Homo sapiens: one gene and its partners. The protein of the gene in region 3 interacts with the protein of the main gene of each other region in a pairwise test. Each region holds a gene or a part of one and is shown on either strand. Other genes may lie near its edges. The genes, in order: ZNF512B, SMAD1, DROSHA, DYRK1A and TULP3.

The links.
Region 1: the proteins of DROSHA (region 3) and ZNF512B interact in a two-hybrid assay, tested with the Homo sapiens proteins (one large-scale study listed by BioGRID and IntAct).
Region 2: the proteins of DROSHA (region 3) and SMAD1 interact in binary tests that used the Homo sapiens proteins (3 or more experiments, as listed by UniProt).
Region 4: the proteins of DROSHA (region 3) and DYRK1A interact in a two-hybrid assay, tested with the Homo sapiens proteins (one large-scale study listed by BioGRID and IntAct).
Region 5: the proteins of DROSHA (region 3) and TULP3 interact in a two-hybrid assay, tested with the Homo sapiens proteins (one large-scale study listed by BioGRID and IntAct).

Annotation. Positions count from the first base shown.
Region 1 is NC_000020.11:63,959,931-63,966,266, forward strand, and holds part of ZNF512B (zinc finger protein 512B), read right to left. Parts: coding exon 6,211-6,336; intron 6,079-6,210; exon of another isoform or gene 5,626-6,078; coding exon of another isoform or gene 5,582-5,625; intron 5,574-5,581; exon of another isoform or gene 4,975-5,573; coding exon of another isoform or gene 4,934-4,974; intron 4,787-4,933; coding exon 4,560-4,786; intron 4,466-4,559; coding exon of another isoform or gene 4,462-4,465; coding exon 4,390-4,461; intron 4,288-4,389; coding exon 4,141-4,287; intron 3,984-4,140; coding exon 3,859-3,983; intron 3,781-3,858; coding exon 3,688-3,780; intron 3,511-3,687; coding exon 3,412-3,510; intron 3,336-3,411; coding exon 3,165-3,335; intron 2,852-3,164; coding exon 2,657-2,851; intron 2,445-2,656; coding exon 2,343-2,444; intron 2,075-2,342; coding exon 2,012-2,074; intron 1,478-2,011; coding exon 1,379-1,477; intron 210-1,378; coding exon 1-209. UniProt on the Homo sapiens protein: Involved in transcriptional regulation by repressing gene expression. Associates with the nucleosome remodeling and histone deacetylase (NuRD) complex, which promotes transcriptional repression by histone deacetylation and nucleosome remodeling.
Region 2 is NC_000004.12:145,511,365-145,517,700, reverse strand, and holds part of SMAD1 (mothers against decapentaplegic homolog 1), read right to left. Parts: exon of another isoform or gene 4,219-6,336; intron 3,264-4,218; 5' UTR 3,088-3,263; coding exon 2,688-3,087; intron 688-2,687; exon of another isoform or gene 507-687; intron 1-506. UniProt on the Homo sapiens protein: Transcriptional modulator that plays a role in various cellular processes, including embryonic development, cell differentiation, and tissue homeostasis.
Region 3 is NC_000005.10:31,510,443-31,516,778, reverse strand, and holds part of DROSHA (ribonuclease 3), read left to right. Parts: intron 1-1,214; coding exon 1,215-1,325; intron 1,326-1,559; coding exon 1,560-1,791; intron 1,792-5,602; coding exon 5,603-5,744; intron 5,745-6,336. UniProt on the Homo sapiens protein: Ribonuclease III double-stranded (ds) RNA-specific endoribonuclease that is involved in the initial step of microRNA (miRNA) biogenesis.
Region 4 is NC_000021.9:37,512,941-37,519,276, reverse strand, and holds part of DYRK1A (dual specificity tyrosine-phosphorylation-regulated kinase 1A), read right to left. Parts: 3' UTR 1-6,336. UniProt on the Homo sapiens protein: Dual-specificity kinase which possesses both serine/threonine and tyrosine kinase activities. Exhibits a substrate preference for proline at position P+1 and arginine at position P-3.
Region 5 is NC_000012.12:2,927,041-2,933,376, forward strand, and holds part of TULP3 (tubby-related protein 3), read left to right. Parts: intron 1-1,924; exon of another isoform or gene 1,925-1,985; intron 1,986-3,207; coding exon 3,208-3,305; intron 3,306-3,996; coding exon 3,997-4,200; intron 4,201-6,336. UniProt on the Homo sapiens protein: Negative regulator of the Shh signaling transduction pathway: recruited to primary cilia via association with the IFT complex A (IFT-A) and is required for recruitment of G protein-coupled receptor GPR161 to cilia, a promoter of PKA-dependent basal repression machinery in Shh signaling.

The DNA of each region.
Region 1 (6,336 bases), on a different chromosome or scaffold from region 3:
GAGCCCCGGGCCCCCTTGTCTCTGCATCCTGGAGGCCAGTCGTCCCGGCGCGGGGGCAGCTTGGCCACAGGCTCCTCTGGGGTCCGCTCCTTGGGCTTTCGGCCCCGCTTCTTTCCACCTGCCAGATTTTTCTTCTTTTCCTTCTTGGGCACCAATGAGTCCTGGCTCCTGTGTTTGGGAGGTGGGTCTGCTGATGTTCGGAACCAGTTCTGGGGAGAGAAAAGCGCTGATGAAGACCTGGGACTGGATGCTGAGCACCTGAGCCAGGCATAGCCTGAGAGCTGAAGACCTGTCAGCCTTCAGGACCAGGCAAGCACCTGCAGCAGGGCTGGACACAGCCTTTAGGACCAGGCAGGCACCTGCAGCAGGGGGCTGAACACAGCCTTCGGGACCAGGCAAGCACCTGCAGGGGGCTGGACACAGCCTTCGGGACCAGGCAAGCACCTGCAGCAGGGCTGGACACAGCCTTCGGGACCAGGCAAGCACCTGCAGCAGGGCTGGACACAGCCTTCTGGACCAGGCAAGCACCTGCAGCAGGGGGCTGGACACAGCCTTCAGGACCAGGCAGGCACCTGCCGCAGGGCTGGACACAGCCTTCAGGACCAGGCAGGCACCTGCCGCAGGGCTGGACACAGCCTTCAGGACCAGGCAGGCACCTGCCGCAGGGCTGGACACAGCCTTCAGGACCAGGCAGGCACCTGCCGCAGGGCTGGACACAGCCTTCGGGACCAGGCAGGCACCTGCAGCAGGGGGCTGGACACAGCCTTCGGGACCAGGCAAGCACCTGCAGGGGGCTGGACACAGCCTTCGGGACCAGGCAAGCACCTGCAGCAGGGCTGGACACAGCCTTCAGGACCAGGCAAGCACCTGCAGCAGGGCTGGACACAGCCTTCAGGACCAGGCAAGCACCTGCAGGGAGCTGGACACAGCCTTCAGGACCAGGCAAGCACCTGCAGCAGGGGGCTGGACACAGCCTTCAGGACCAGGCAAGCACCTGCAGCAGGGGGCTGGACACAGCCTTCGGGACCAGGCAAGCACCTGCAGGGGGCTGGACACAGCCTTCGGGACCAGGCAAGCACCTGCAGCAGGGCTGGACACAGCCTTCGGGACCAGGCAAGCACCTGCAGCAGGGCTGCTGGGGGCTGGAAAGGCGGACACCCCGAGGGCAGCTCCAGCTCAGGGTGCAAGCCTCCCAGTTCTCCCAGGGAAGCCAGACCCCACTTTGAGGAGAAACTACCAGATTTCTCCACATTGGCCACTCTCCCAGGCACACCCCATGCAGGCCACTGACCTCTCTACCCCCAAGGGGTGCCCAACCCCAGCCCTGTCCCCTCCTGGGCTAGCCCCCAGCCACAGGCCCTGGTGATGGCCCTCGCACCTCTGCGTGGGTCTTCAGGATGTGGTATTTGACGCCACTCTCAGAACTGAACTCCTTCGGACACAGCAGACAGCGGTACTTCCCTGCCAGGTGGGCCCCCTGCAATGCATAGGCAGGCCAGTGCCCCAGCCCTTGGAGGACCCAGATCTGTCCTAAGCCCCTACTCATGGCTAAAGGGTCAGAGTCAGCGGTGGCCCAAGGAAAGCTGTGGCTGTCTGTGCCAGACAATGCAGGGGGCCACTGAGTTACCAGGGCGGCAGGGGTGGTAGGGGAGAGGAAGGGTAGGGAGAGGCAGGTGCCCAGGGGAAGAGTTGCAGACCTTTGCCGAGCATCCCTTATTGTAAGCCAGTGTGCCATCTGCGTGGGTCGGGGTGCCCACCCATGCCTACATGGACGCAGAGCTCCAAGGACAGGACTAGGACTCGTTGTCTTGTGGCTGGGGTTGGGGCGAGGGAGGTGTCCTAGGCTGGCCATCAGCCACCGGCCAGTCTCTGGGTTCGTGGAAGAGGAGGCCACGTAGAAAAAGTAGGGGACAAGGCAGGGTCCCTCACTACTGTGTGGGAAGCCCGCGTGGGGTGAGCTGGGAGCTCTGAGTGCAGCGCACCTGGCCGTGGGGCAGGCCCCAGAACTGACCTTACTGCAGCTGGCGAGATGAGCCTTGAGTCCGGACACGCTGGAGTAGATGGCTTCACAGCACTGCAGGGAAGGGAGCCGTGGGCGAAGGCCTCTGGTGGGCACCCCACACCAAGATATACCCCTGCCCTACCCCAGGGGATCTCTGAGGCTCTTTGGGGCAAGTGAGGGGGTGTGAGTCCTGGGGACTGGGCAGGCTGGGCATGTGAGGCCTGGGGTGGGCTTGGGCACCTCCTGAAAGCTCTCAGCCTCTGTTCCTGCTCAGAGGGCCACACCCAGGCTCTGGCCCTGTATGGCTCCCCACGCCCCCCACCCGGCTGCCTCCGCTCACGTCGTTGGGACAGTTGACGTGGCCTTTCTCCTTCACTTCATTCTTCCATGCCTCTAGCAGCTGGGGGTTCAGCGTGGGGAGCCCTGGTCGAGTGTAGTTGAGCTGTGAATTCGACAGCACCAGGGTGAGCCTGAGGCCAGAAGACACCCCAGCTGCTCTAAGAACACTCGCCTCGGCAGCAGGCGACACTCGCCGCAGATGGCGGGGGCAGCGGGTGGCCCAGGTCACAGCAGTGGCTGTCCCAAGTCTCAGGCCAAGGCATGCCCCACGCAGAGGCCACGGCGCTGTCCACAGCCCTGGGGGGGGCAGCTCACCCGTGCGGTCTCGGGCACAAGGTCATCCTTCATGCGCCGCTTGGTCCAGTCGCGGGCCAGCTCGTCCTCCGCTATCTCCTGCAGGTGGAACACCGCCACCTGGGCCGACGTGCGGCGGACACGCCCGCTTGGGGTCCGCTCCACACCCAGCGGGTCCTCAGCCTCAGGGGACTTGTCTGTGGGCTCCTCAGGGGGCTGGAGGGCAGGAAGGCATGGAGGCTAGAGTGAGCCGCGGGAGCAAGAGTCAGGTCAGCGCGCGGCGAGGCCACCCTAAGGCCGGTGGACCCACAGGCCTCCCAGTGTGCTGGGGACATGGCTGACGCAGGCAACCCGAGGGAACACGGAGGTTTCACCCTCCCGCCCACCAGGACACACGTCTCTTACAGAGAGGGGTGGGAAACACACGCGTTGGGCGGTACATGGACAAATACAGTTGGCACCCAAGGCACACGGAACACACACGGCACACAGGAACAAGCACTGTGCCACAGAACAGAGAGCCACTCACGGGGGCCGTGTGCTCCGAGCGCACGTGGTAGTCGTGGCCAGCCTTGGATCGGTACGTCTTGCCACAGTGGGTGCAGGGGAAGGAGGGGCTGTCCACCTCGCAGGGCGGCTTCCCGCAGCGCCGCTGGTGGTACTGGTAGCCCATGAGGCTGGAGAAGGCAGCCCCGCAACCCTGGGGGTCAGGCCAGAGGGTGGGTGAGTGGCCAGCAGGGCCCCCCCACCCCACACTGCCGCGGCCCCCCACTGACCTCCTGGGGGCAGCGCAGCCGTCCCATCTGCTTCAGCACCTTGCGCAGCCTCTCGCGCTCCTCCTGCTCGCCCCCTTCGGAGGCCTCGGCGTCAGAGGGCTGGGGACAGGGTGAGCATCGGTGACCCGGCACCATCGCCACGGAGCCCTGCCCTGGCCCCGCCCCGCCCAGGTGTTGGGCCACCGTTGTCCGAGGTTAGAAACCGGGGGCACTGCGGTGAAGGTGGGGTGCGAGGTCAGAGGTCACGCTGGACGGGAGCTGGGGGCCCGACGGTACCTTGGCACTGTGCTCGGCCATAGTGTGGTAGTTGAGGCCGGCTTTGGACTTGAACTGCTTCCGGCAGTGCTGGCACTTGAGTGCATCCTGAAGCTGCAGATGGCCCACATGTGAGAAGCCTGCCTGGGGCCAGGGCGCCTCCCTCCCAGCGCCTTCCGGGAGCTGCCTTACCTTCTGACACACCTCCATGTGCTTCTTAAGCCCCACGAGAGTCTTCCGGGTGACCACGTTGCAGGTGGGGCAGACGGCTTCCCCGCGCTCATGGATGGCCCTCTGCCACTGCTCTTCAGGGCCACCTGTGGGTAAGGCAGGGGCCTCGAAGGCTTGTGGGGGCTGCTGGGTGGCCCAGACGCCAGGCACAGAATCCAGTCTCCACACTCAGCCCCCATCCCTGTGCTGTGGGATCTACCCGCCGTCTAGAGCTGCCCTGAGCCCCTGCCAGGCAGCCCCTACCTGGAGCTGGGTGGGCCACAGGGGCCGGTGCCTCCTTGCTGACAGTGATGGGGGCAGCTGGCACCTTCTTCCGGGCGTCCTCAGGGCCTGGCCCCTCCTGCTTCTTGGAGCGGTGAACTCGGGCCTTGTCCTCAGCTTTGACCAGGCCTGTGTGCACACATGGGGTGGAGAGAAACAGGGATGGGCTCAGGGGCTGTCACTCGGTGGACAGCCCCAGCCCTGGAGGTGCACACCGGGCTGGGGTCTTACCTTTGAGCCCAAAGGTCCCTGAGATGGATGGCTGCTCCCCTGTAAACTTTTTGGGTGTTTTCTGTTTCCTTCCTGACTCGGGGAGAGAAAACGGGGGCCAAGATTCTGGTGAAATAACCGTCAGGAGGCCGAGCCTGCCCCGGCCGCCACCCCTGGAGCTCTCATCTTACTGTGCTTTGTGCGCTCCGGGTCCTCCTCAGGCGGGGACGCAGGGCCTGCAGCCTTCAGTGCCTCCATGCCCCCTGACGGCCTGCTGCCTGGCGACAAGGAGCCACTGCTGGTGTCTGCACTCAGCTGGAAGGCCGAGCTCTGGCCCATGGAGGAGGGGCCGTACTCCCCATTCTCTGGCCTGGCCTGCTTGGGTGGAATTGGGCAGGTGTCCAGGCTGTCCGCAGCCCTGCAGGGAGCAGGTGAGGTGAGGGCCAGGAGGGCCTAACTGTGGGCCCCATTACCCCCAGGCCGTGGCCGAGGAGCACCCTGACCTGGAACGAGCCCCCATACCTTTTCTCACCACTGTTCCCCGACCTGGGACAAGCCCCCATACCTTTTCTTACCACTGTTCCCTGACCTGGGACGAGCCCCCATACCTTTTCTCACCACTGTTCCCTGACCTGGGACGAGCCCCCATACCTTTTCTCACCACTGTTCCCCGACCTGGGACGAGCCCCCATACCTTTTCTCACCACTGTTCCCTGACCTGGGACGAGCCCCCATACCTTTTCTCACCACTGTTCCTCCCCGACCTGGGACGAGCCCCCATACCTTTTCTCACCACTGTTCCCCGACCTGGGACGAGCCCCCATACCTTTTCTCACCACTGTTCCCTGACCTGGAACGAGCCCCCATACCTTTTCTCACCACTGTTCCCCGACCTGGGACGAGCCCCCATACCTTTTCTCACCACTGTTCCCCGACCTGGGACGAGCCCCCATACCTTTTCTCACCACTGTTCCCCGACCTGGGACGAGCCCCCATACCTTTTCTCACCACTGTTCCCCGACCTGGGACGAGCCCCCATACCTTTTCTCACCACTGTTCCCCGACCTGGGACGAGCCCCCATACCTTTTCTCACCACTGTTCCCTGACCTGGGACGAGCCCCCATACCTTTTCTCACCACTGTTCCCCGACCTGGGACGAGCCCCCATACCTTTTCTTACCACTGTTCCCCGACCTGGGACGAGCCCCCATACCTTTTCTTACCACTGTTCCTCCCCGACCTGGGACGAGCCCCCATACCTTTTCTCACCACTGTTCCTCCCCAACCTGGGACGAGCCCCCATACCTTTTCTCACCACTGTTCCTCCCCGACCTGGGACGAGCCCCCATACCTTTTCTCACCACTGTTCCCTGACCTGGGACGAGCCCCCATACCTTTTCTTACCACTGTTCCTCCCCGACCTGGGACGAGCCCCCATACCTTTTCTTACCACTGTTCCTCCCCGACCTGGGACGAGCCCCCATACCTTTTCTTACCACTGTTCCTCCCCGACCTGGGACGAGCCCCCATACCTTTTCTTACCACTGTTCCCCGACCTGGGACGAGCCCCCATACCTTTTCTCACCACTGTTCCCTGACCTGGGACGAGCCCCCATACCTTTTCTTACCACTGTTCCCTGACCTGGGACGAGCCCCCATACCTTTTCTCACCACTGTTCCTCCCCGACCTGGGACGAGCCCCCATACCTTTTCTCACCACTGTTCCCCGACCTGGGACGAGCCCCCATACCTTTTCTTACCACTGTTCCTCCCTGACCTGGGACGAGCCCCCATACCTTTTCTTACCACTGTTCCTCCCCGACCTGGGACGAGCCCCCATACCTTTTCTTACCACTGTTCCTCCCTGTGGCACGAGGTGCTTTGTTCTCCGACCTGGTCAGCAGCACCATTTTGCAGGGCGGTGTGTGTCTGCTGATAGCAATGGGCCTGCTGACTGTCACCGGCTTG
Region 2 (6,336 bases), on a different chromosome or scaffold from region 3:
AAAAGGTATAGATAAACTGAAAATTCAGCACTAAAAAAATGGCCAAATGACGATATTAAATTAAAAATCAGCATCACCATTTAACAGCAAAAATTTATCAAATTATGCTTGTTGCTAAAAATAGAGATGTTAATTATACACATAGTCCCTGCCCTCATGGAGCTTTATTTACTATCTTGCAGAGAAGACCAACAGAACAATCATTATAAGTGTGAAGAACATTCTAAAGAAATTCAGGTTGCTATGGGAAATGAGACCTAACCTCCCCAAGCAGAGTAGGGAGATATGTGTGAAGTAGGAGGTATCAAGAAAGGTTTCCCAATGAAACTGACCTCCATCACACAATTACTTAGTTTATTAAGTAATGACCATGTGCTAGACACAAACGATAAATAAGAGTGGGCTAGACAAAGAGGGAGGAGAAACAGGTACAGATAGAGGAAACGTGCATGGAATGTTTCCAGAGAACTCAAGCACACAAAGCATGCAAGAGTACAAAGGAAGTTGGAAAGGGAGGAAAGGACCAGAATGTGCAGACCTCTCTAGAGGACTTCTCAAGAGTAGGGAAAAGTAGGACAACAAGAGGATCATGTCTGCATCTTAAAAGATCCCTTTCTGTAGACAATGGACTGAAGGGGGTGACCAGTCAGGAGGCAGTTGCTGCATTGCAAGATGAAATGCTGGAAGGTTAGCGCAGGGTGAGGGGGAGTATGGATGGAGAAGACATATTCATAGTGTCTTTTAAATAGTGAATTTTGCCTTTCATGTCAAATGCCTCTATTTTCTAGTTCTAACACAAGGCACTTAACTTGTAGGGGCCTCAGTTTCATCGCATATGGAGTAGAATTAAAATCTTACCTATGTATTAATACATTTTAAGGTTACTACGAGGATCAAAAAAATCATGTGCCTAAATAATATTGCTGGTACATATTACTTATCTACTACATTTTACTCTCCAAAACTCTTAGCTCCATTTCCATTTCTGGCTAGAAGAGGGACATGTACCTCTGTGCTGAGTTTAGAAAAAAGAACACTGCATCACAGCTGATATAACAAGCAGTAAAGAACGTCTATATCCAAACTGGTAAGGAGAATTCAGCACAGTTGTTAGAAAAAAGGCAATGCTCTCTTAACCAAGAGCAACTGTAACAAAATGTAACTTTTAAAAGGATACAATAAAAACCAGTTATCTAGAAATAAATCTAGTAAGTGCAGGAGCTGTATGGAGAAACTTAAAAGTGCACTAAATAATATTATGCTCAAGAGCACAGTAGGCCAATCTTCCCCAAATGAAATCAACGAAATTCCAATAAATTCCCAAAGTGTTTTTCATAGGACTTAACAAGGTAATCCTAAAGTATATAATCTAGAAATCACAAAAACGTAATGTTGGATGAACATAAGTTGTACAAAGAAACTCCAATATTATGTAACATTTTTAAATATATAAAATATTACATATTGTCATGGACTCATACATATGTAATAACAGTATAAAAACATGCATGAGAATGATAAGCGTCAGATTCAGAACAGTGGTTACCAAAGGGAGCAGAATCAGAGGAGCAAAAACAGGGGTTCCAGTTTACACGTAATCTTTTATTTCTTAAAATGAGTAGGGGATACAGAGATGTTTGTTATACTACTGGTCTTTAAAATCTTTTTTTAAAATATGTCTTAAATATTCCACAAAAATACAGAATGCCTTTTATTTGAAAACCATGTTATTACATGATCTAGTTTAGTAATTCCTAAACACCAATCCAATAGCTACATCAGTAACACCTGAAGTACTTGTTAGAAACAAAGATTACCAGGCTATCCCAGGATCAGGATTTCTGGGAGGAGAGCCATGTGATTCTAATATACAGCCTTAGTAACCCAGGAACTATTAACAGCCAATCCATCAACAAAATTGGTCCCAATCGACAATGAGACATTTAAGTGCTTGAATATCTAATCACTTTCCAATGATCCAACTCTCTAGAATGTAGATTCTAACTTGAGGGCAAAACCGTATAAATTTTAAAATATATCCTTTACCATACCCTCCCAAAAGACTATACATGTAAAAACTGGGTATATTTTATAAAGTAATAGCATCAAATGATTCCATAGAAGGATATAATTCCTTCATATTCACCATAGGAAATATGCCACAGCAAAATTCCGCCAGAGATGATAAAAAGTGCTGTTCTTAAGTTCAGAATGGTTTAAGTCACTGGCAACTACCCTCATGATGTACTTCCCTTAAGCATATAGACAGCAATAATGCATTTCTTTCCTAATTTTCTTCCCTTAGAATACAATTCATAGCTAATTTTATCTAGAGAAATGCAGAGAACCATGTGAGACATAAAAAATAAATTTAGAAAGAAAACAATTTATTAAAAATTAGAGGTATTAGTACTGCAATGACAATTGTCATAGCCTGCTCCCAAGACATAATGTTAACTAGAGATGACTAAGCTGTTAAAATGTATGAAACACTCAGGGGCTTTCTCTCTTGCATTCACACAGACACACACACACACACACACACACACACACACACACACACACAGTTTCCCCAAATATTTTTAAATTACAACTAAAAACAAGCAAAGGGATTATTTTCATGTTCTAAACAACACAAATCTGGTACTGGGCACACAAAGCACATCAACATAAAATAACTCACTTACCAGGGCTTTCTACTCTCTTATAGTGGTAGGGATTGATGCAGACCTCCTTCTGCTTGGAACCAAAAGGAAACTCACAGCATTCCAGTGGTTTTAGTTCATGGTGGCTCTGAAGATCGGGCCAGCGCCACACACGGCAGTAAATGACATGAGGCAGTCCCTTCCGGTGGGAGACTTGCAGCCTGCCATCCAGAGAGCGGGGAATGGTGACACAGTTACTCGGTTGCCCTGGGCAGCTCAAGGCCTTTTCCAGTTCCTCCATGGCACCTTTCTTTTTCTTCAGTTTTTTCACCAAAGCATCAACAGCTTTCTCTGCCCATTTTTCTTCTTCATCGCCCTGTTTCCACCCAAGAAGTCTCTTCACAGCTGGACTTGTAAAGGAAAATAAACTTGTCACATTCATAATGACAGCACTAGTTATACTCCTTGGATATGGTGAAATAAAGCTGTCTCCAAATGCAAAAGGACAGCAGAAGAGATTTGTTTATTTACAGAGAAGTCTCTTTAACTTCTTAGTTTGAAGTCCAGAAGAGTAGAAATTACCATTCCTAGTGTTTAAAAAAGTAACCCAGTCAGCACCTACAAAACAAAAAAAGAATGGTTAGAATCATCTTTACCATACAACCACATTTATTAAGTAATCACCATGTGCTAGGTACTATTTTAAGTGCTTTTATGTAATACAGTATGCTGTGGACTGAATTGTGACCCCTAAAATTCATATGCGGAAGCCCTAACTCTCAGTATGACTATATTTGGAGATGGAGCCTCTAAGAAAGTAATTAAAGTTAAGTAAGGTCATCAGGGTGGGGCCCTAACCTGATAGGACTGGTGGTCTTAAGATTGCTATCTCCCTCCTCCAGCCTCTATGCACACACACTGAGGGTACTGCAAGAAGGTGATCATCTGCAAGCCAGGAAGAGAGCCCTCACCAGAGCCTGTATTGTCCAGAACCTTGATCTTGGACTTTCCAGACTCCAGAACAAAGAGAAAATCTATTTCTGTTATTTAAGCCACCCAGTCTATGATATTTTATTATGGCAACCAAAGCAGACTAATATATAGCATTTAATGCTTTTCACAATCCTTTGAGTTAGGTAATACAATTGCTGCCACTTTACAGATGAGTAAACTGAGAAGCAGTTTAAAAAGTAAGCCACTGTTAGCAAAAGCTCTGGGATAAAAGCAACAAAGTTAAAAAGCCCAAGTTCTCAAAAGATATTGTAATATTTTAGATTTAGATTCATTTATAACCTCTAAAAATATATTTCAAAACACCTCAATCAACAAAAACTGAAAGCAACAGGGAGAAAAAAATAGTCTAATATCTCTGTTTTTTTGGTTTGTTCTACAAATATTTCTTAGGCTAAAAGAAAATTCCTCTTATATAAATGTAGTAATATTTTAGGGTATTTCTTCAGTGAACAAGCCTGTGTCTATGGGCTACAGGACAAATAGGATAGGAAATACATCTCCTGCTTTAAAAATGTTGCTATTTATTGACATAAAAGGAATAAAGCACATGGACACATACTGTACCAAATTCTTTAGCCAAGTTGCCTCATTTAAACTGTTTACTCTTTAGCACATGAAAACATAAAATGTGAAAAAGGTTAAGGAGGTTAACTTTGTACAAACCCTGGCTAAACTGGAGTAGCACGTATCAGACCAACCTCCTTCCAAACAAACAAGCCAGAAAACAAACAAACAAAAGCCCAGCTTTTTAAAGGCATCAAAGAGGAACCAAGGCACTCAGGACTTGAGGGGGCCAAGATCCTGGAGAGAGGGGAAATGCAATGAAGTGAGCTGAATATTCGTCACCACTCTTTCCAGGGATTTGCCAATAGCTATGCTATGAGCAGCAAAAGGTCTAGGAGCCGAGCAGAAAGAGGTAACTAAGAGGCTAAAAACTAAGCAGAGCTTCTAGTAGCCTCATAGCGCTGAGGAACCCCAAAATAACAACACAGCAACAAATGGAGTTGAGGGCCTGCTGAGGAGAAACCCTGGTAAATAGTCTAGGCTTTCAATGGAAGCTCCTGGAGGAATATGCCCCAGTCTAAGGGCAAAAATGAAACGGATCAGTCTTTACAACCAATCTAGAATCATCTTAATCCTAGCCTTGGTCTAGGTGATGGGTATTGCTCTCTAACAGCTTGCCAGAAGAAAAACAAATTCTCTGTAGAGGAAGACAACATCAACCTTAGCCACTACAATTTTAAATTCACAGTGTATGCAATGAACCAAAAGTTATCAAGCATACCAAGAAACAGGACCAAATGATCAAAACAAAACAGAATAGAAACAGACCTAACGGGTGACCCAGGTAATGGAGTTACCAGAAACAGACTTTAAAGTATTAATGATTACTATTTACTATGTCAAGGAAAGAGAAGACAAGGTTGAAGATTTTAACAGAGAACTGGAATCCATAAAGAAGAATGAAATAAAAATTCTAGAACTGAAAAATATAACTAATGAGACTTTAAATAGGATGAACTTAACAACAGGTTAAATACAGTAGAATAAAAGATTAGTGAGCAGGAAGACTGGTAAAAAATGCTCATACTAATGCAAAGAGAGGGAAAAAATGAAAAATAAAGAACTAAGGAGACATAATGGCTCTAGTGAAAGGTCTAGCACTGCATAAGTAGAGTCTTAAAGGAAAAGAAGAAAGACTGTAACAGAGCAATATTTTTAGATACTAGCCAAGGATTTTTCCAAAACTGTCAACAGACATCTAACCATACATTCACGAAGCCCTACACCTTCCAAGGATACATACAGAGAAATCCACAAATTTCAATGTGTCATATAACAGTAAAATTCTTGAAAACCTAAGATGAAACTCTTTAAAAAGGCACATTACCTTCAAGTAAGTACAATCAGGTTGACAGCTGACATTTCAGCATAAACAATGGAAACCAGAAGACAATGAAATGACATCATTAGTGCCAAACGTAAATAGCTGGTAACTTAAAATTCTACATTTAGAGGAAAAACACATTCAAAAAATGATTGTGAAATAAAGATGCTTTCCAACAATCAAAATCTGAGAGAACTGGTTTACAGCAGATTGTCACTAAAAGAAATACTAACAGGAATTCTTCAGGCAGAAGGAAAAAGACTCTAGAAATAAGCAAAGAACTGCAGGAAATGAGGAAGAGCTCCTGAAGGGGAAATAAGGGTAAGTTTAAATGAATACTGACTTCACAAAACAACAATAGGAATGTCTTGTGATGTTTAAAATATATGTACAATTAAAATGCATGGCAACAGCAAAAAGAGATATATGAAGTTAGCATTCTAAGGTCCTTGTGTTATCCAGGCCATGGTAAAGTATAATTTACTATTAGTACAGTAAGTTATGAATTCATGTCATAATAAAGCAACAACTGAGAGAATAAGTTAAAAATTATAACAAGCTAATAGATGGGTTAAAAATATGGAATTAAAAAAATATATATGATTAGCCCAGTAATCCCAGCACTCTGGGAAGCCAAGGTAGAAGGATAGCTTGAGGAGTTCCAGAGTAGCCTGGGCAGCACAGGAAGACCCTATCTCTACAAAAAGTAAAAAAGTAGTCCAGCAAGGTGGCATGTGCCTGCAGTCTCAGCCACTCAGGGGGCAGAGGCAGGAGGACTGCTTGAGCCTA
Region 3 (6,336 bases):
ATATAATTATTGAAATAGGTGTTCCTGATTTACTACTGAATGAGAAGGTCAGGCTATAACATTAAAACATTTATGAAATATAGTGATTTTCTCTGAGTGGTGTTATGTGTGGTTTTTATGTTTGTGCTTTATTTTTTCTACAGCGAACATACATTGACAGTAATTTTTCTGGTAACAAAACTAATGATGCGTATTGTAATGTCTGGAAGTTATATAAATAATATGTATAATCTTTCTAATCCTCCCAAAGTATACATACCTACACACATATATATACATACAGACTTTCCCTGTTAGAAAATTACAAGTTAGTGGTAGAGTTAATGAGAATACTTATTACTTTGATCTGGATGTAAACTTACATGGATAGTAGTAACTTTGTTAGTGGAGCTGTGAAGGCTACCAGGTGATCTTACAAAGCAGTTTTTCTACTTAGCTGGATTCTCAAGGTCTCTGTGTTCTACCTAAATTTCTTGGGCTTAAATTAAAATCTACCCTGTAGGTTTTGTTGTTATTGTTGTTTTGAGACAGCATTTTGCTCTGTTGCCCAGGCTGGAGTGCGTGGTGCAATCATAGCTCACTGCAGCCTCAGCCTTCCAGGCTCACGTGATCCTCCCACCTCAGCCTCCTGAGTAGCTGGGACTACAGGTGTGCACCAACATGCCTGGCTAATTTTTGTATTTCTTGTAGAGACAGGGTTTCACCATGTTACCCAGGCTGGTCTGGAACCCCTGGGCTTAAGTGATCCTCCCGCCTCGGCCTTCCAAAGTGCTGGGATTACAGATGTGAGCCACCACGCCCAGCTGACCCTATAGGTTTTTCCCTCCAAGTACATCCATAGGATGGGTCTTTGCAGATTTCAAGCCCCAGGAAGTCAGGGAGATGGAGTTGTTTTTTCATCTTTCTTTATTGACTGAGTTAATATTAATATCTGTGAGGACCAACATTAGGCAAAGTGTTGGTTCACCAAGTAGTAATGCCCAAGACTGGGGTTCCAGAGACAGTTAGGGATGACATAAGTGGTTCACTCTCGGATTATAATTATAGTCCTCAGGCCAAATTTATGGCCATATTGAGACCCTGTTTTGTGAAGTCTTAAAATCTTTTTTTCCTGGCAAAGACAGATGTGGAGGATTCAAAACTGGTATTCTCATTGCTGAAATTGTCCATATGTGGACATTTCCAAACATTTTGCAAATATCTTTTTCTTTTAGGAGTTACGGTTTATCGGTTGTTCCTGAACCTGCTGGATGCACACCAGAATTACCTGGGGAGATTATTAAAAATACAGATTCTTGGGCCCCACCCCTGGAGATTGTGAATCAGTAAGTAGATCTGGGGTGGGGCCTGGGAATTTGTATTTTTAAACAAGTAAACTTCAGGTGATTCTGATGCCACCAGACTGGTATTTGGGAGTCACTGGTTTAACAAAAGTACACACGGTGATTTGGCATGGTATTCATATTTTAGGTGAAAAATGCACCAAATAGGTGAAATAGAATAGTTTTTACAGTGGAAGAGTATTTTTAATAATTAACCTCCTTTGCCCTCTTTTGAAGTCGCTCCCCAAGTAGGGAGAAGAAGAGAGCTCGTTGGGAGGAAGAAAAAGACCGTTGGAGTGACAACCAGAGTTCTGGCAAAGACAAGAACTATACCTCAATCAAGGAAAAAGAGCCCGAGGAGACCATGCCTGACAAGAATGAGGAGGAAGAAGAAGAACTTCTTAAGCCTGTGTGGATTCGATGCACTCATTCAGAAAACTACTACTCCAGTGACCCCATGGATCAGGTGGTAGGTCTGAAGTAGCAGACAAGCTGTAGACTAGGGCTTCTCGGCGTTGTCACTATTGGCCTTTGGGGCTGGATAAATTCTTGATTGTGGGGACTGCCCTATGCATTGTAGGATGTTTAGCGGCATCTCTGGGCTCTACCTGTTAGATGCCAGTAGTACCCCTCCCCAGTTGTGGTTACCGAAAATGTCTTCAAATATTGCCAAATGTCCCCTGGGGGGAAAAGATCACCCCCAGTTGAGAATCACTGTTACAGACAAAAGCCGTTTTAAAAAGCTAAAAGCCAAGAGTGCAGTAGGTTAATTAAAATATCTTTTTATAATGCATTTTTATTTATTTATTTTTGAGACAGGGTCTCGCTCTGTCACCCAGGCTGGAGTGCAGTGGCACCATCGTGGCTCACTGCAGCCTTGATCTTCCAGGCTCAAGTGATTCTCCCACTTCAGCCTCCTGAGTAGCTGGAACTACGGGGCACGTGCCACCATGACTGGCTAATTTTTTTTTATTTTTTAGTAGAGATGAGGTCATACTATGTTGCCCACTCTGGTCTCGAACTCCTGAGCTCAAGCAATCCTCCTGCCTTGGCCTCCCAAAGTGCTGGGATTACAGGTGTGAGCCACTGTGCCCAGCCTATTCTACATTTTTAATGATACTGGTAGTCTCAGTACTGGTGGTTTCATAAGCTTTCACATGTAACTAGTTTATGCAGTTTGTAGTGTGTATGTGTATGTGTGTGTGTGTGTGTGTGTGTGTGTGTGTGTTTTCTCCAAAATGAAAAATAAGGAAGAATTTGAGTTTGTCTCTTCGAAGTGTATCCTTGACCAAAAGAGCACCAACCCTACGAAGTTGCCCATGCATATTGGCTAGTTTTGCAGAAAGGGAGAGCCATTGTCACCCTTAATGGGCTGGAGGGAGGACTCCTAGAGCACATGCTGCCAGGGCCGGGGCGCCTGTGGTGCTACAGCCGGCGTGCTCATTGCCATGACAGACTCCACCACTATTTCTACATGCTCACTTCTCTTTTCTTTCTTCCATCTCCATTTTATTTTCTGTCACTGTCACCTTTTTGCTCTCTCTTCCCCTCTTCCCCCTAGGCGTTATGCCTCCATCCTGTTAGGCATATTTGCCACAGAGTAGGCATGTTGTAATGTTCATTGATTAAATGAATGAGTGGACATCTCATTCATTTAATTAATGAACTCGTGCAGATTTCGGGCATGAAAAGTTGCAGATGTTAGATTTAGTGTATGGGATTAGATAAGAGATAAGAGAGAGTTGTGTTATTTGGAATTTTGTGAAAATAGCTTCTATTTGGACTCGTATCTGTGGGGAGCTTGAAAGGAGATTTCTGTGTTTTTGGAAACAAAGGATTTGAGAAGTCTCTCATAGTGGTGTGATATTTTATTTGATAAATTAGAGCAGGCTTTTAAGTCATAGTTGATGTGGTACAGGGAAGGGAAAGCTCACATACTGTGCACTTTACGGTGCCTGAATGTTATTCCATGCTTCTCATGTTGTCTTAGTTGACCCTGAAAACACCCCTGGCAAGAAGGTGGTTCTGTCCGTTAGAAATGCTGCTAGGAGTAATAACACCTGACTAAGTGGGACTTAAACAAGCTGGGTTTGTTCTTCTCATAATAAGGTACCTGGAGGGAGGCCATGGCTGGTGTTCACTGAGTGGCTCAGTGATGGCAGGCCCTGCTGTCTTCCTGAGCATCTTCCACAGTTGCAGGATGATGCAGGACTAGCAGGCCTCAGGTCCTTACACACCCGCATCCTCACACGCAGGATGCAGAGGGCATGTTGGGTGAGCATTCTTCTAGTGTCTTGCCCGAGCTCTCCTTTCATCCCTTGACTCCCCTTCCATCCCTTTACCAGAGCCATGTGACATGCCTACCCCAGGGATTCATTTTTCCTTACTGCCATGACAGAGTTCCACAAATGGCATGGCTTGAAACCGCACACATTTGTCATCTCACAGCTTGGGAGGTCAGAAGTCCAGCATGGGCCTCACTGGCTCCATCAGGATGTCAGCAGGTCTGTGCTCCTTTATGGAGGCTCTGGAGAAAATCTGTTTTCTTGCTCATTCAGGTTGCTGGCAGAGTTCAGTTGCTTGTGTCTGGAGGACAGAGGACCTTGTGTCCTTGTTGGCTGTCAGGTGTGGGCACTTCTTGGTTCCTCCAGGCCATGTGCATTCCTTGACTTGTGGATCCCTTCCTCTGTCTTCGAAGCCAGCAATGGTGGTCGAGTCCTTCTCGTGTTTTGAATATCTCTTGCCTCTTTTTCTGTTGTATCTCTGACCCCTGTTGGCAAAGGTTCCCTGATTTTAAGGATTCCTGTTCTAAGATTGGGTCCACCCAGCTGCAAATCCTTTTTGCCATGTAAGTTAACATATATATTTAATTTCTGGGGATTAGGACATGGACATCTTTGGGAGGGGCTGGTGGCTCAGCCTACCTTCCCAGAGATCAGGAGTTCTCTTCTCCAAATCTTACAGAATCCTGCTTCTATTAGGAAGAAGGGAAGAATGGCTGCCATAGGTGTTATTATTCTTAAAACAATAAAGATGAAGACACTGAAGTTCAGGGAGTTTAAACAGGCAGGGCTGGTTGTTTTTTATTACATCGTTATGAGTATATTAAAACTCCAGTGTAGGAGGAAGACTGATAAACTCAAAAGGCTGACATTTGCCTTTGAGTTTTGTCGTCTGTGTGGTGCAGAGAAGGTGGTGAGAATGTCAAAGCTATACCGGCATCGCCACTCCCAACAATGAGATGGGGCCTGAATTATCCCCTCTTCTGGGTACCAGATTTTATGATTTGCCTTAATTTTACATTTGACAGGTCTGGTTTTTACATTTTAAGGCTACTAAGTCAGAGTGTGGAGATGTAAAGTGATTTTCAACCTGGAAATTGAGTGAGGAAAAGTGGAAAATTTTCTCTAGGAATCTGTTGCAGAGTCCCGTGTTTGTGGTATGTGTTTGTGTGTGTGTGAGAGAGAGTGTGTGCATGTTTATGTCCTCGTGTTTAAGGCATGAGAGTGTGTGTGTGTGTGTGTGCGTGTGTGTGAGAGAGAGAGAGAGGGGATATATAGGATATTTCTTATTGCTCGATGGATTGATATAGGAGAAGATAGGTTATCAGTGATTTTCAGTAGGAAGTGTACATTCCCTATGAGGGTATTTGATGTCAGTTGTCATGATTCTCTGAGGGTCATGATTTTTTAAAAAATGTCATATTAATAGGGCATAGATGAACTGTTCTAATGTTTCTTTTCTGTTTTTTTTTTTTTAGATGAGGTCTCTCTATGTCACCCAGGCTAGAGTATAGTGGCACAGTCATAGTCATAGCTCACTGCATCCTCCAACTCTTGGGCTCAAACAGTTCTCCTGCCTTAGCCTCCCAGGTAGCACAGGCACACACCACCTGGCTAATTTTTTTCTTTTTCATAGAGGTGGGGTCTTGCTATGTTGCCCAGGCTGGTCTTGAACTCCTGGCCTCGAGCAATCCTCCTGCCTCTGCCTCCCAAAGTTGCTAGGATTACAGGCGTGAGCCAGCACGCCTGGCCTGTTCTAATGTTTCTGAATGTTGGCAAGGCACATTTACCTGAAGACTGTGTCAGCGATAAGTGTGTGTTTGATTCAGAGTATGATTGCCAGTACTTGAGCATTTTGTTTTTAAATGTTTGTTAAATTTAGGGTTGAAAAATAGCATCTTGCTGTTAAAAATGCTTTGATTACCTGTGAGATCTTACATATCTTTGATATGATCGTTATTGATATAGTTCCTAATATTGATCCTTTATTTTTAAAAGGGAGATTCTACAGTGGTTGGAACGAGTAGGCTTCGTGACTTATATGACAAATTTGAGGAGGAGTTGGGGAGCAGGCAAGAAAAGGCCAAAGCTGCTCGGCCTCCGTGGGAACCTCCAAAGACGAAGCTCGATGAAGATTTAGGTGAGTCAGAGTCACTAACTAGCCTGAGACCCTTGCGATTATAGCTTCATTCCTAAATTTTGGGGAAATACCCTTGAGAGTCCCACATTGAGATTTCTTCTTTTTCATTTTATTTTTCTTAATTACAGTCAGTAAGATACATAGCAGTAGAACTTCCTTCTTTTTGATCGTATTTTTCCTTAGTTCATTTGGCAGAATACAGCAGCGATCTCATTTGCAAGGCATGCTAACAAGGGTGCCCCTTGGAGAGTTGTCCAGTCAGAAGAGTTCAGCATCTTTCCGAGAGCAGGAGCCCATGCCCCCTGCCTCTCATGAGGACAGGTGTCCTTCCTTGGCCCTCTCCTTTGCCAGGTGCGCCTGGTTTGATGAGGGAAACAGCGACTGTACCCCAGCTCTGTTTGAAGGTTTCTCTCCACTTGTGTAGACAGTTTGCATAGCTTTTTCATAAGGTGGTCTATTTTTTCATGTGTATGTTCTGAGGTTCCAAGTAGGTTGTGAGATCTTTGAGAATGGAAATTGCTTTTTATCACTTTGTATCCTTAGCCCCTAACAGAATGCCATGCACAGATGAGACATTCAGTGTGCATTTAGC
Region 4 (6,336 bases), on a different chromosome or scaffold from region 3:
CTGTAACTACTATACAGAGCTGGTGGCTGGTGCCCTGGGAAACCCTTCACCGGCTTACAAGACCAGATGAGACTGAGATATAAAGGAACTAATTCCATTCCCACTGTTGGGAAATAACATGTGCCATTCTCATGGGACATCTGAGAGCTATTAATGAATAGGATGTTACACTGACCCATCTCCACAAGGGAAGACAACAAAAAGGAACAAACTGTGTAAGTTTTATATACTTACATCTGGCAATTTCTGCCTTTCCCGGAGGCTTGTTTATAACATTTTGTAATGCACCATAAATTGAAAATTTTAATTATCCATTACTCTATGTAAACTTTGGTAATCAAACTCCATTTCAAGATGTTCTTGGGGCTGGGTGAAGTAGCTCACGCCTGTAATCCCAGCACTTTGGGAGGCCGAGGCAGGTGGATAGCTTGAAGTCGGGAGTTCAAGACCAGCCTGGCCAACATTGCGAAACCCCCTCTCTATCAAAAATACTATTAGCTGGGTGTGGTGGTGTGCACCTGTAATCCCAGCTACTTGAAAGGCTGAGGCACGAGAATCGCTTGAATCTGGGAAATGGAGGTTGCAGTGAGCCGAGATCACACCCCTGCACACCAACCTGGGAGACAAAGCAAGACTGTCTCCAAAAAAAAAAAAAAAAAAAGTCCTTGGATTCAGACTTCCGTCATATTAGCCACACGCCTCTTCTTGCCAGAGTCCTGCCTGGCTGCAGGTTCAGAATGGCCCGCAAAGTTTCAGAAAACAGAGCTCCAGGCCCCACCCCAACTCTGAATCTAAAATCCTGCTAGTGTGATGGTCATCCGTGGTTTTATAAAGTTCTACAGATGAGTTTAGTGTGCAGCAAGGCTGGACAGTCATTTTAAATTGATGAGTACCGATTGAGCAGTTTGCGATCACTAGAGTTCATTAGTCATTTCTTTCCTGGATTTGCGGGCAATGGAAGTGGGAGTGGTGCCTGAAGTGAGCTCCTCCCCACCTCGTGGCATCACCTCTTCAGCAGAACAAGGCTTGTCTGTGATGTACATAAAAACGCTCTTTCTCATGCTATTTCACTGCATTCCGCTTTTCCGCTTTAAATCTTTACAGACGTGAGCCACCACGCCCAGCCTATTTATGTTTGAGAGGCCCAGGCTGGAGGATCACTTGAGGCCAGCAGTTTGAGGAGCGCCTGAGCAACTCAGCAAAACCCCGTATTAAAAACAGCCAGGCATGGTGGTGTGCACAGGTAGTCCCAGCTACTTGGGAGGCTGAGATGGGAGGATCACCTAGCCCAGTTGTTTAAGGCTGCAGTGAGCTGCAATCACACCACCAAACTCCAGCTTGCGTGACAAAGCCAGACACCGTCTCTAAAATTAAAGAAGTAACATTAAAAAAAACTTAGCCGTTTCATGCCACTAGAGGTATTTTCTTTCATTTCAGAGGGAGTTAACAAACCCCACCCCAGCAGTGCCCTTCTCTGCAGTCTTTCTGTCCAACAGTGAGTGGATGATGATTCCAAATTCATCCTCCCAGGGTCTCTTTTAAGCAACTCAACACTTTCTGCTGGCCACACTCAGGCTCAGGCCCGTCCTCTTGCCTGGGTGTTCATTAACAACTCCCTGCCCGGCACACCTGCTTGGCTGCTTCCTGGCCACCCTAGTGCAGAACTACCACACACACCCAGTGCCTGCCACTTTATTTTGCCCTTGGCTCTGAATCTCCCGTGACTGCAGTTTCAGATATGGAATTCAGGGGCAAGTACACTGACTAATGAATGAGTATATAATGGAAGCAAAACTTTACAAGAATAAAGAAAAAAATTCCCAAAGTAGCAATTTTAGAAATTTAATCGGGAAGATTATCAAATAGCTGGTCTTTCAGACAGATGAAACATTAAGCACTTATACCTACACGGCCTTTCTCTAGCTATGAGAACTCGGCCAACCACACCCATGCCAGCATCGCCCGGCCTCCCATGCGAACAGAGCTGGGCTCCACTTGTCTTGTCCACTTGTTTCCTCTGTCCTGCATCATGAACTTTTGCCACCACTTTGCCTGACCCAAACTTAATGCACTTTATTAATAGTCAACATGACTCAGGCTCTAGTACTGTGCTCCTTCAGGACCCAGCTGGGACTGAACCAGGCTACCTGGTAAAAGCGAAGGGAAGCCGGTTTAAGACTTGTCTCTGCCTCCTCTATGCTTTGAAGAAGGATTCACAGGTTTTGCTGGGGATGACAGGAAATTCAACTGAAATGGAAATTTACCCACATTAATTCCACACCTGATAACAGGGACATACCCTAAAGATGGGAAATTATGGGGAAAAATTTTCAGGTACAGCAGCTGCATACTGGAAGAGAGACCTGTAGCATTCTAGTTGTGTTTCAAATCAGCGTCCAGTTGGAGAAACACTTTGTCTCCTAAGATTTAAAGTAGGAAATTAGAAATAAATACTGACAAATACCTGACAGTCTCAGTGTTAAGGTAGTGTTATTTTTTTTAAAGTTCTGATGCAAGAACACCCACTGAGAGCAGCCAAAATCTGGGACCTTGGCTATGCATAATGCCAAAGAGAGCCAAACACACCAAGCGATGAGCCACTTACCTCAATGAACATGTCTTCCACAAAACAAGCATCCAGTGCCTTCAACACAGGCATACGTCAAAAATTCCTGGTCCAGGGTGAAAGCCCAGTAGGCATCCACAGGCTGGTTCTCAGTGGATTCATTTGGATTAAGGTTAGTCATTAAAAGGGAGGATAACAAATAAGCTATCTTCTTAGGGTTTCTTCTCTTGTTCTTTGTACTACAAATTACTTGGTGATGTATGTTTTCACGCAAGGAAACAGGCCTAGATAAGAAACCAGGGTTATGAAAATCAGAACTTCTCCTCTACTCTCCCTGACACCAAAGGTTTTCCAACGTCTGGTCAACAGACATCCCTAGCAGATTTTTAAGAAATCTGAATGAAGTCTGGGTATACCGAAGTCACGCACGGCTTTTGTCCCCATTACATTTTCAAACTTCCTTCATATATAGCAGTAAGACCAAGTCATGTATTTGGAATGAACCATCTGGTCTATTACATACAGTCTACCACTATAAAAATGGACATAAAAATGAGTCTTGAACTTGTATTCTGTCTATGGGGATACCACCCAGAATGCACCGGATCGCATCTGAACCTGCATTCTGCGACTATCAAAATAAAGGCAGGCCCAAAGGAAACTGAGAAACTGGCCTAGAACTGAGTGCCTGCTATCTCGTCTTCGTGTGTATTTTGATTATGTATCTCCCTATTGGAAGAACAGAAAAGTTCAACACCACAAAAGCTGGGAAGCAGTACAGGGGCAAACTCAATGGTCACTTGTGAGCCTAACATAATTACTGAATCTTTCATGATTTTTTACATGTAGTTTTAAATAAAAATGTCGGTTTTTTTTTTTCAGCCCAATATCCATGTGCCTAGGTAAAATTCTCACACCCTAAGAAGAAAACTAATGGAAGTTTTCCTTTCTTACATGTGGTTAACTTCAACTTTACGCAACCAACCTTAATTTTACAGATTCACGCTTAACTTTTAAATAAGCATCTTGCCTCTCGAAAGCCACCTTAATATATACTGAAGCAGGTGAATTTGTAAAAAGAGAAGACTTTAGGTTAGCAATTGAATCACAGTGGCAAGAATTCTAGAATTCTGATATGGCCCCGTACGAGGAGTTAGGGAAGGAAGAATGAGTATTCGTATTCCTTCCTTCATCCAAGCACGTCAAAGCATATCAGAGAAAACCATCAGACCCTCACATCCAGTCGAAATGCTACCAACTAAAATATGAGCATTTTGAATCACAAAATTATGTAAACATTCAAATAAAAAAATCAATGTGAAAAATCAAAATGATCTGTTAAACCTCCAATTTTTACTTTCAGAGATTGCTGATGCCTATGTCAATGTATCTCAAATAGTTTCCTTTTTACACATTTAACTCAACTTTGATACTATACCTACCAGACCTGGACCAGTTTAATTGCATAGGAAGATTTTTACTATGTTTACATTTTTCTTAAATTAATTTTTAAAAAAGCATAGTAAAGAGTCTGAGGACAAATTATTCAACTGTTTATCATACATAAGACCGCATGACTATAATACAAAGGGGGGTTCTTTTTTCATTTAACGTTACAATATACACAGCAAGTCCGGACTAGATCTTACAATCTGAACACAGGTATTTAACCTTTTCCATGCTGTTTATGTTTACAATGCACAGAAGTCCTGTAACCAAACTGTGTAGTAAAGCACACAAAACTGGACTGTAACATAACACAGTATGCAGAAGCATTGGATTTTATGATTTTCTTTACGTAAATATCGGTTTAAAAACTGCTTTAGTTTTTTGGTGCTTGCTAAGATGTGGCAACCAGCACAGAAAAAAAAAATGACCTGACCCATATGATATCTTAACCTTATATTCCTAAACAGCAGTAACTACTGAATTCCTTTTGATATTGCTATACTCAAGATGATATCCTTTTATTCACTGTAAACCTTTATGAACTACCAAGTTCAAAAAAATCATCCACAGGCTTGACAGTTAATTACAAAATAAATATGGATTTCCTGATAAACAACAAAAAGTTTTTGTAGTTTATAAAAACGAGTATTTCCAAGTTTCCATTCACATTTACATAGTGTTTAGCCTTTCTTTTCTCACTGTTTACATATAAAAACCTGCTTTTGTTCAGAAAAAAAATTGACCTAGTCAGCCACATGGAATTGACCAATAGAATGAAACGCGGTGTTCTGCTGAGTCATCTTAAACAGGTTATCGGCAGAGGTAGATTACTGCTTCTTTTCTAGGCTTCTTTTGATCCTGGACAGGTAAATTACTTATCTTCATTCTCCCAATTCAACCGCTCAAAAGTGTCACACCCCAAAATTGGTCAATTTAAAATGGGAACACAAATTTAGCAACTGCCAGACTGTGTTACATTAAGGCAGCGTAATCTCAACACGAGGCACCTGTTAAATACCAGCCTGTCTGCTCAGGTCACGCATGAGAGTTCTGCTTTGCTTGCACTCATACTCTGGACCTGTTGGTGCAATCAAGGTCTTGCTTTCAAGTTTACAAGTAGGTTAATCAGGAATACAAGAATCAACTGCTGGTTCCATAGCTTCTGGATCCAGTGTCCCTTTACCTTCAGAAGCCTGAACACACTTAGAATGTAACAGATGTTGTAATCTTGAATTAGATGTCAATCTACTATGTTCAGTACACAGATTGCTGTAAATGTATTGGCTATGGATTCAACAACAGTTCCAGTTTTGTTTAAGCAATAGTACAGCCATAATTTTCAACTGACATTTAAAAATGGTCTAGTTACACCTTGTGTCAAAGTGCAGAACTGCTACATTATTGGTTACAGACATCTATGTGCTATAAAAACAGCTTTGGTACAATAAATTATCAAAAAAGAAAATAAATTTTTGTAAAATTCACAGCATAATTGTGAGGCAAAAAAGCAGTCACATAAAATTCTGCATTTTTTAAAAATGTTCAGGATGAACAGAAGACATCTTTGTGCAGAAGAAATGGTGGAGATACCACGTGCCGAGAAAAAGCAAAAGAAAAAGTAAAAAGCAGGAAGGGACACAGCTGTAGCTATTTCCATCAAAGCAAACCACTACTTCTGTGACCTTCAACCAATAAGGAAGTCAACTTTATGACACACGCAAAGTGACCTTGCAATACCTTACAATTAGTGGGTCACAAAAGTCTATTTTAAAAGAAAGGCCTCTTGAATTACCCATTCTCTGTGTTTTCAGCATTAAGGACTGTCTGCAAAAGCATGTCCAAAAGTGATTGCATCTGAAATGGTAGGCTCTTCTAATTTCGAGTCCAAATCCATAAGGCCAAAGGTTATCCCAAAGACCACCACTCAGACCTCCCCAGGACTGGCCACGACCGACCCGTTGATTGCTTCTCAGTGCACCTTGGTTAGGAGACCAGTCACGTTCCATCCTATCTTCCTGTGGCCTCTGCAACGGGAGAGCCACAGGATCCCATGTAATTGCTGCTTTGCTCCTCAGTAGGTTCAGATAGGAGAGTTCTGATCCCCGCCACTCAGCATGCTTACTGTGCCTGACAAACTTCACCACAACCGTCCCTTTCATACAGCTGAAGATGGTGTTTGTGGAAGCTGGAGGTCCCTCTTCCTTACAGTACTGCATTTCCGTGCCCAAGTGTGTTTAGAGGACTTAAAAACCCAAATTTCCCACCCTCCCACCCAAAACAAAACAGAACAAAACAAAAAAAAAGGGGGATGGGGGGGACAA
Region 5 (6,336 bases), on a different chromosome or scaffold from region 3:
CCCCTCAGCCCTAGGCAGCCACCAGTCTACTTGCTGTCTCTGTGGATTTGCCTGTTCTGGACATTTCATATTGATAGAATCATACACTATTTGTCTTTTTGTGTCTAGTGTTTTACTTGCATAATGTTTTCAGGGTTCCTTCATGTTATAACAAGTGTCCGTACTCCATTCTTTTTATTGTTGGATAACACTCCATTGTATGGATAAACCACATTTTGTTGATCAGCTGATGGACGTTTGATTGTTCCCACTTTCCCTGTTAGGAATAATGTTGTTATCAACACTCATAAGTTTTTGTATGGACCTATGTTTTCAGTTGAGACTGATTTTTTTTTTTTTTTTTTGAGACCAAGTCTTGCTCTGTCGCCCAGGCTAGAGTGCAGTGATGTGATCTCGGCTCACTGCAACCTCTGCTTCCTGGGTTCAAGGGATTCTCTTGCCTCAGCCTCCTGAGTAGCTGGGACTACAGGTGCCTGGCTAATTTTTGCATTTTTAGTAGAGATAGGGTTTCACCTTATTGGCCAGGCTGATCTCGAATTTCTGACCTTGTGATCCACCCATTTCGGCCTCCCAAAGTGCTGGGATTACAGGCATGAGCCACTGCGCCCGGCCTGAGATTGATTTTTTTAAAACTGACCTTTGTCTTATCCTTGTGTTCTTCAGTAAAGCTAATACCAATCTATGTATGTACCGTATAAAAATAGATCATTTTTCTTTCCGAGATGTTGAATGTGCACAAAAAGTGGTTCAGAGAAAAAAGCCACACTTGTTAATTCCATCTGTAAATCTATGATTCAAGGACCATTTCAGTGAGGGGTAACTTCACCCCGCAGATACTAGACACAAGGGAATTTAGTTTAGGTCTTGCTCTGCCTCTTTCTCTTGGAGAAATGATTCTTCCTGAGCCTGTACTCCCACATATAAATCTGAGGCTCGTCACTCTTTCATAACACACATTGATCACACTTTATTTTACATCTGCATTCCTCTCCAGATTATATACTCCATGAACAAGAAACAATAGAAAACAAAAAGACTATCAGTATCTCCTCCTCTAACTCAAATGTAAGAATAAAATGAAAAAATAGTTTTTCATCCAGCAGTTTTAAATTTCCTATAAAAGATGCTCCATAAATCCAAAGTACTAGTATTTCAAACATTCCTAGTTAGATTTAGTTAACTAGACAGAGATTAAGAAAATGCCAGGGGGCCAGCCATGGTGGCTCACGCCTATAATCCCAGCACTTTGGGAGGCTTAGGCGGACAGATCACCTGAGGTTGGGAGTTCGAGGCCAGCCTGACCAACATGGAGAAACCCCGTCTCTACTAAAAATAAAAAATTAACCGGATGTGGTGGCACATGCCTGTAATCCCAGCTACTCGAGAAGCTGAGGCAGGAGAATCGCTTGAACCTAGGAGGCGGAGGTTGCGGTGAGCCCAGATTGCACCATTGCACTCCACCCTGGGCAACGAGAGCGAAACTCCATCTCAAAAAAAATAAATAAATAAAATAAAAAGAAAATGCTGAGGGGAATAAAACTGCTGTAAAGAATAATGCATCATTGAATTTTTTTTTTACTGTGGTAAAATATGCATCGTAACATAGAAGTTACCAGTGTTGGCCTGGCATGTTGGCTCACACCTGTAATCCCAGCACTTTGTGAGGCCAAGGTGGGCAGATCACCTGAGGTCAGGAGTTTGAGACCAGCCTGACCAACATGGTGAAACCCTGTCTCTACTAAAAATACAAAAAAATTAGCTGGGCTTCGTGGCGCACACCTGTAATCCCAGCTACCGGGGAGGCTGAGACAAGAGAATTGCTTGAACCCAGGAGACGGAGGTTGCAGTGAGCTGAGATGGTGCCACTGCACTCCAGCCTGGGCAACAGAGTGAGACTCCATCTCAAAAAATCATAATAATTTACCAGTGCTGCAGCTCTTTTTAGAATTTGTCTAGCAAGTTTTCCTGTTTTTACTGAAGCCTTCCCTTCCCTTCCAAATAACAAAAAGTACACTTTTTTTTTTTTTAAGAGTTCGGGTGGGCCGAGACGGGCGGATCACGAGGTCAGGAGATAGAGACCATCCTGGCTGACACGGTGAAACCCCGTCTCTACTAAAAATACAAAAATTAGCCGGGCATGGTGGCGCGCGCCTGTAGTCCCAGCTACTTGGGAGGCTGAGGCAGGAGAGTGGCGTGAACCCGGGAGGCGGAGCTTGCAGTGAGTCGAGATCGCGCCACTGCGCTCCAGCCTGGGCGACAGAGCGAGACTCCGTCTCAAAAAAAAAAAGAGTTCGGGTGTAATTCTGTCACCCAGGCTGGGGTGCAGTGGCACAAGCATAGCTCACTTTAGCCTCAAAATCCTGGGCTTAAGTGATCCAACCACCTCAGCTAGCTAGGACTACAGACACACAGGTACCATCGTGACCAGCTAATTTTTTTAAAAAAACTTTTTATGGAGACAGGTCTCAAACTGGTGGCCTCAAGCAGTCCTTCTGCCTCAGCCTCCCAAAGTGCTAGGAGTTCAAGCACGAGCCACTGTGCCCTGCCTAAATTTTTTTTGTTTTGTTTTTTTGAGACAGAGTCTCTGTCTCCCAGGCTATAGTACAGTGGCACAGTCTCGGCTCGCTGCAAGCTCCGCCTCCCAGGTTCAAGCGATTCTCCTGCCTCAGCCTCCTGAGTAGCTGGGACTACAGGTGCGTGCCACCACACCCGGCTAATTTTTTGTATTTTAGTAGAGATGGGGTTTCACCATGTTAGCCAGGATGGTCTCAATCTCCTGACTTCGTGATCTGCCCACCTCAGCCTCCCAAAGTGCTGGGATTACAGGCATGAGCCACCGCGCCCAGCCTGCCCTGCCTAAAATTTACAACTTTAATCAATTTTAAGTGTGAGATTCAGTGACATTAAGTGTATTAACAATGTTGTGCAACCATCACTACCATCCATCTCCAGAACTTTTTCATCATCCCAGAGACTTCACACCCATTCAAGATAATTCCTCATTCTCCCCTGCCCCCAGCCCCTAGTAACCTCTATTCTACTTTCTGTCTCTATGAATTTGCCTGTTTTATGTATTTGGACAAAATAGTTGTGTTTACGGTCAGAATAGTTAAGAATGTTTTAAGCAAGAAAATTAAAACTATCTTTGTTTCAAAGACCTTTTTTAAACAGTGTTGGCAGTGCTAACAGTTCTTCCTTTTCTGCTAGATATCTCTGAAAGTGTGAACTTCGATGAGGAGACTGATGGAATATCCCAGTCAGCATGTTTAGAAAGACCCAATTCTGCATCAAGCCAGAATTCAACCGTATGTAGTTCTGAAACTTCTTCCATTAGAGCTAATTTGACTCTTTCTCAAACATATCTTCAGTATTTATTTATTTATTATTATTATGTATTTTTTGAGGTGGAGTCTCGCTCTGTCACCCAGGCTGGAGTGCAGTGGCATGATCTCAGCTCACTGCAAACTCCGCCTCCCGGGTTCACGCCATTCTCCTGCCTCAATCTCCCGAGTAGCTGGGACTACAGGCGCCCGCCATGACACCCGGCTAATTTTTTGTATTTTTAGTAGAGACAGGGTTTCACCATGTTTGCCAGGATGGTCTCGATCTCCTGACCTCGTGATCCGCCCGCCTCAGCCTCCCAAAGTGCTGGGATTACAGGCATGAGCCACCGTGCCCAGCCCTCAAACATATCTTCAGTATTTAAATACCATTACTGAGTGAGGGTTCCTTCAGAAGTGTAAGCTCAAATTTAGTTTATGATCTAATTTTTTCTGTCTCAGGTCAGCTATTGTGAGGCTTTGTCCCATTTTGATACTTACTCTTCATTACTCTCAATATTCATATACTTAATTTAACTTTTCAGTTTTCCTCATTCTGTCAGAAGACTGAAGACACGGGTAAATTACTAAGTTGCTTTGTCCACTAAGTGTTTTTCAAAGAGAATCAGATTTTGAGTCTCGGCCTGTTGTTGCTCATGTATGGCTGTCCTTTCAGGATACAGGCACTTCCGGTTCTGCTACTGCCGCCCAACCAGCTGATAACCTCCTGGGAGACATAGACGACCTGGAGGACTTTGTGTATAGTCCTGCCCCTCAAGGTGTCACAGTAAGATGTCGGATAATCCGGGATAAAAGGGGAATGGATCGGGGTCTCTTCCCCACCTACTATATGTACTTGGAAAAAGAAGAAAATCAGAAGGTATGAGAATTGATTTCTAAGAAAACTCTTGAGAGAGAGAAGAATGTTGTGGGAATAGATTGTTGATGGGCCTTAGGGAACTAACTCTGGTATTAGACCAAGCCAGCTGGAAGTAGATTGTATCTTTCAGTCCCCAGATGCTGTGTTCTCATTTTCTGCAAAGAGCTCATGGTCTAATAGGCAGCAAGCTCTACCCTCCCACAAATAAGAGCTTTATCCACGAAGTGGGAAAATGGACGGGTAGTTGTTAATGTAATTATTTTCACCTGTCTCCCATGATTGAGTTTTTGAATGTTACTGTTTGTTCTTTTGGTTTTTCTTTTTATTACGGAAGAACATGACATTGTGGAAGGAGAGTGAGTTTTAGGGAATAGGAGGAATTAGAAATACAGAAGGACCTACAAGTTAAATGTCTTGTTTCTCACCCTAGAAGTTCTAATTTATTTTATAAGTTTGAGCCAGCGATGAACTTTATTTTATTAATTTTGTATTAATACCAGGTCTTAACAGATGATTTTAAGAGCCTAGAAATAAGATAATGATACTAGGTGTTAATTCTTCTAACCACCATTTATTGAGTGTTTACGACAGACCAAGCATATGCATATATATCTATATATATTATCACCTGTAATCCTTGCAGCCACCTTGTTAGGTAGGATTTCTTACCTCTGCTTTAAAGATGAGGTAACTGGGGCTTAGGGAGTGACTTACCTACCCCACGTTGCACTAAGTGGTGGCAGAGCCAAATTCAAACCTATTTTGCATAATTCTAAAGTCTTCCTGCTTAGCCACTGCCACTCTCCTGCTTCCCTATTATGGTCCTAGTCTAGGAGAGTTTAGGAAGGATGCCTATATAGGATGGTATTCATGCCATTGAGGTCACAGTGGTTTAACACAACAGCAGTATAGAAAAAAGAGTATTTCCTCCCTGGAGAGGCTTCCCTTTTGTCCCTTCTTGCCCTTTGCCTAATCAGAGTCTTTCCTGATGTGCTTCACCAGATGTGGTTGACATTCCTCTGTCTGTGTCCCCATGGCATGAAGAAAGCTATCACAGGCCAGGTGCGGTGGCTCACACGTATGATCCCAGCACTTCGGGAGGCTGAGGCAGGTGGATCCCTTGAGGACATGAGCTCGAGACCAGCTTGGCTAACATGGGGAGACCCTGCCTCTAGCAAAAAATTAAAAAATTAGCCAGGAGTGGTGGCATGCACCTGTAGTTCCAGCTACTCGGGAGGCTGAGGCAGGAAAATCACTTGAACCTGGGAGGCAGAGGTTGCAGTGAGCTGTGATTGCACCACTGCACTCTAGCCTGGGTGACAGAGTGAGACCCTATCTCAAAAAAAAAAAAAAAAAAAAGCCATCACAGTAAAGAATGGGAAGGTTTTCAGGATCCTGTCTCTCCTAAGGTTGGAAAGACTCTTAATCATGGCATTGGATGAACATTGATTGTTATTTATTTATTGGATTTTGCAAGGTTGCCCAGGCTGGCCTTGAACTCCTGGACTCCAGTGATCCCTCTACCTCAGCCTCCCAAGCAGCTGGGATTATAGGCTCATGCCACCTGGCCCAGCTTTGGAGATTTTTTTTTTAACTGGAAGTTTTAGGGATGAAGTTGTAACTAATTATATGGAGAATCAAGCTAGTGAATTTAGAAAAACTGTATAGGAAGAAAACCCTGATAGTGAATTATTTTATTTTTATTTTTTATTTTTTTTTTGAGACAGAGTCTCATTCTGTCACCCAGGCTGGAGTGCAATGGCATGATCTCGGCTCACTGCAAGCTCCGCCTCCTGGGTTCATGCCATTCTCCTGCCTCAGCCTCCTGAGTAGCTGGGACTGCAGGCGTCTGCAACCACGCCCAGCTAATTTTTTGTATTTTTAGTAGAGACAGGGTTTACGGTGTTAGCCAGGATGGTCTCGATCTCCTGACCTTGTGATCTGCCCACCTCGGCCTCCCAAAGTGCTGGGATTACAGGCGTGAGCCACCACACCCTGCCTGATAGTGAATTCTGATAAGAGAGTTAGAGAAAGGGATAAAGGCCCAAAGATTAACAGCTTGACATATGCTGAGGACTTGCTAAGCACTGGCTGAATGAATATGTAGGACAACCATGACCAGAGGTGGGGCAGGTT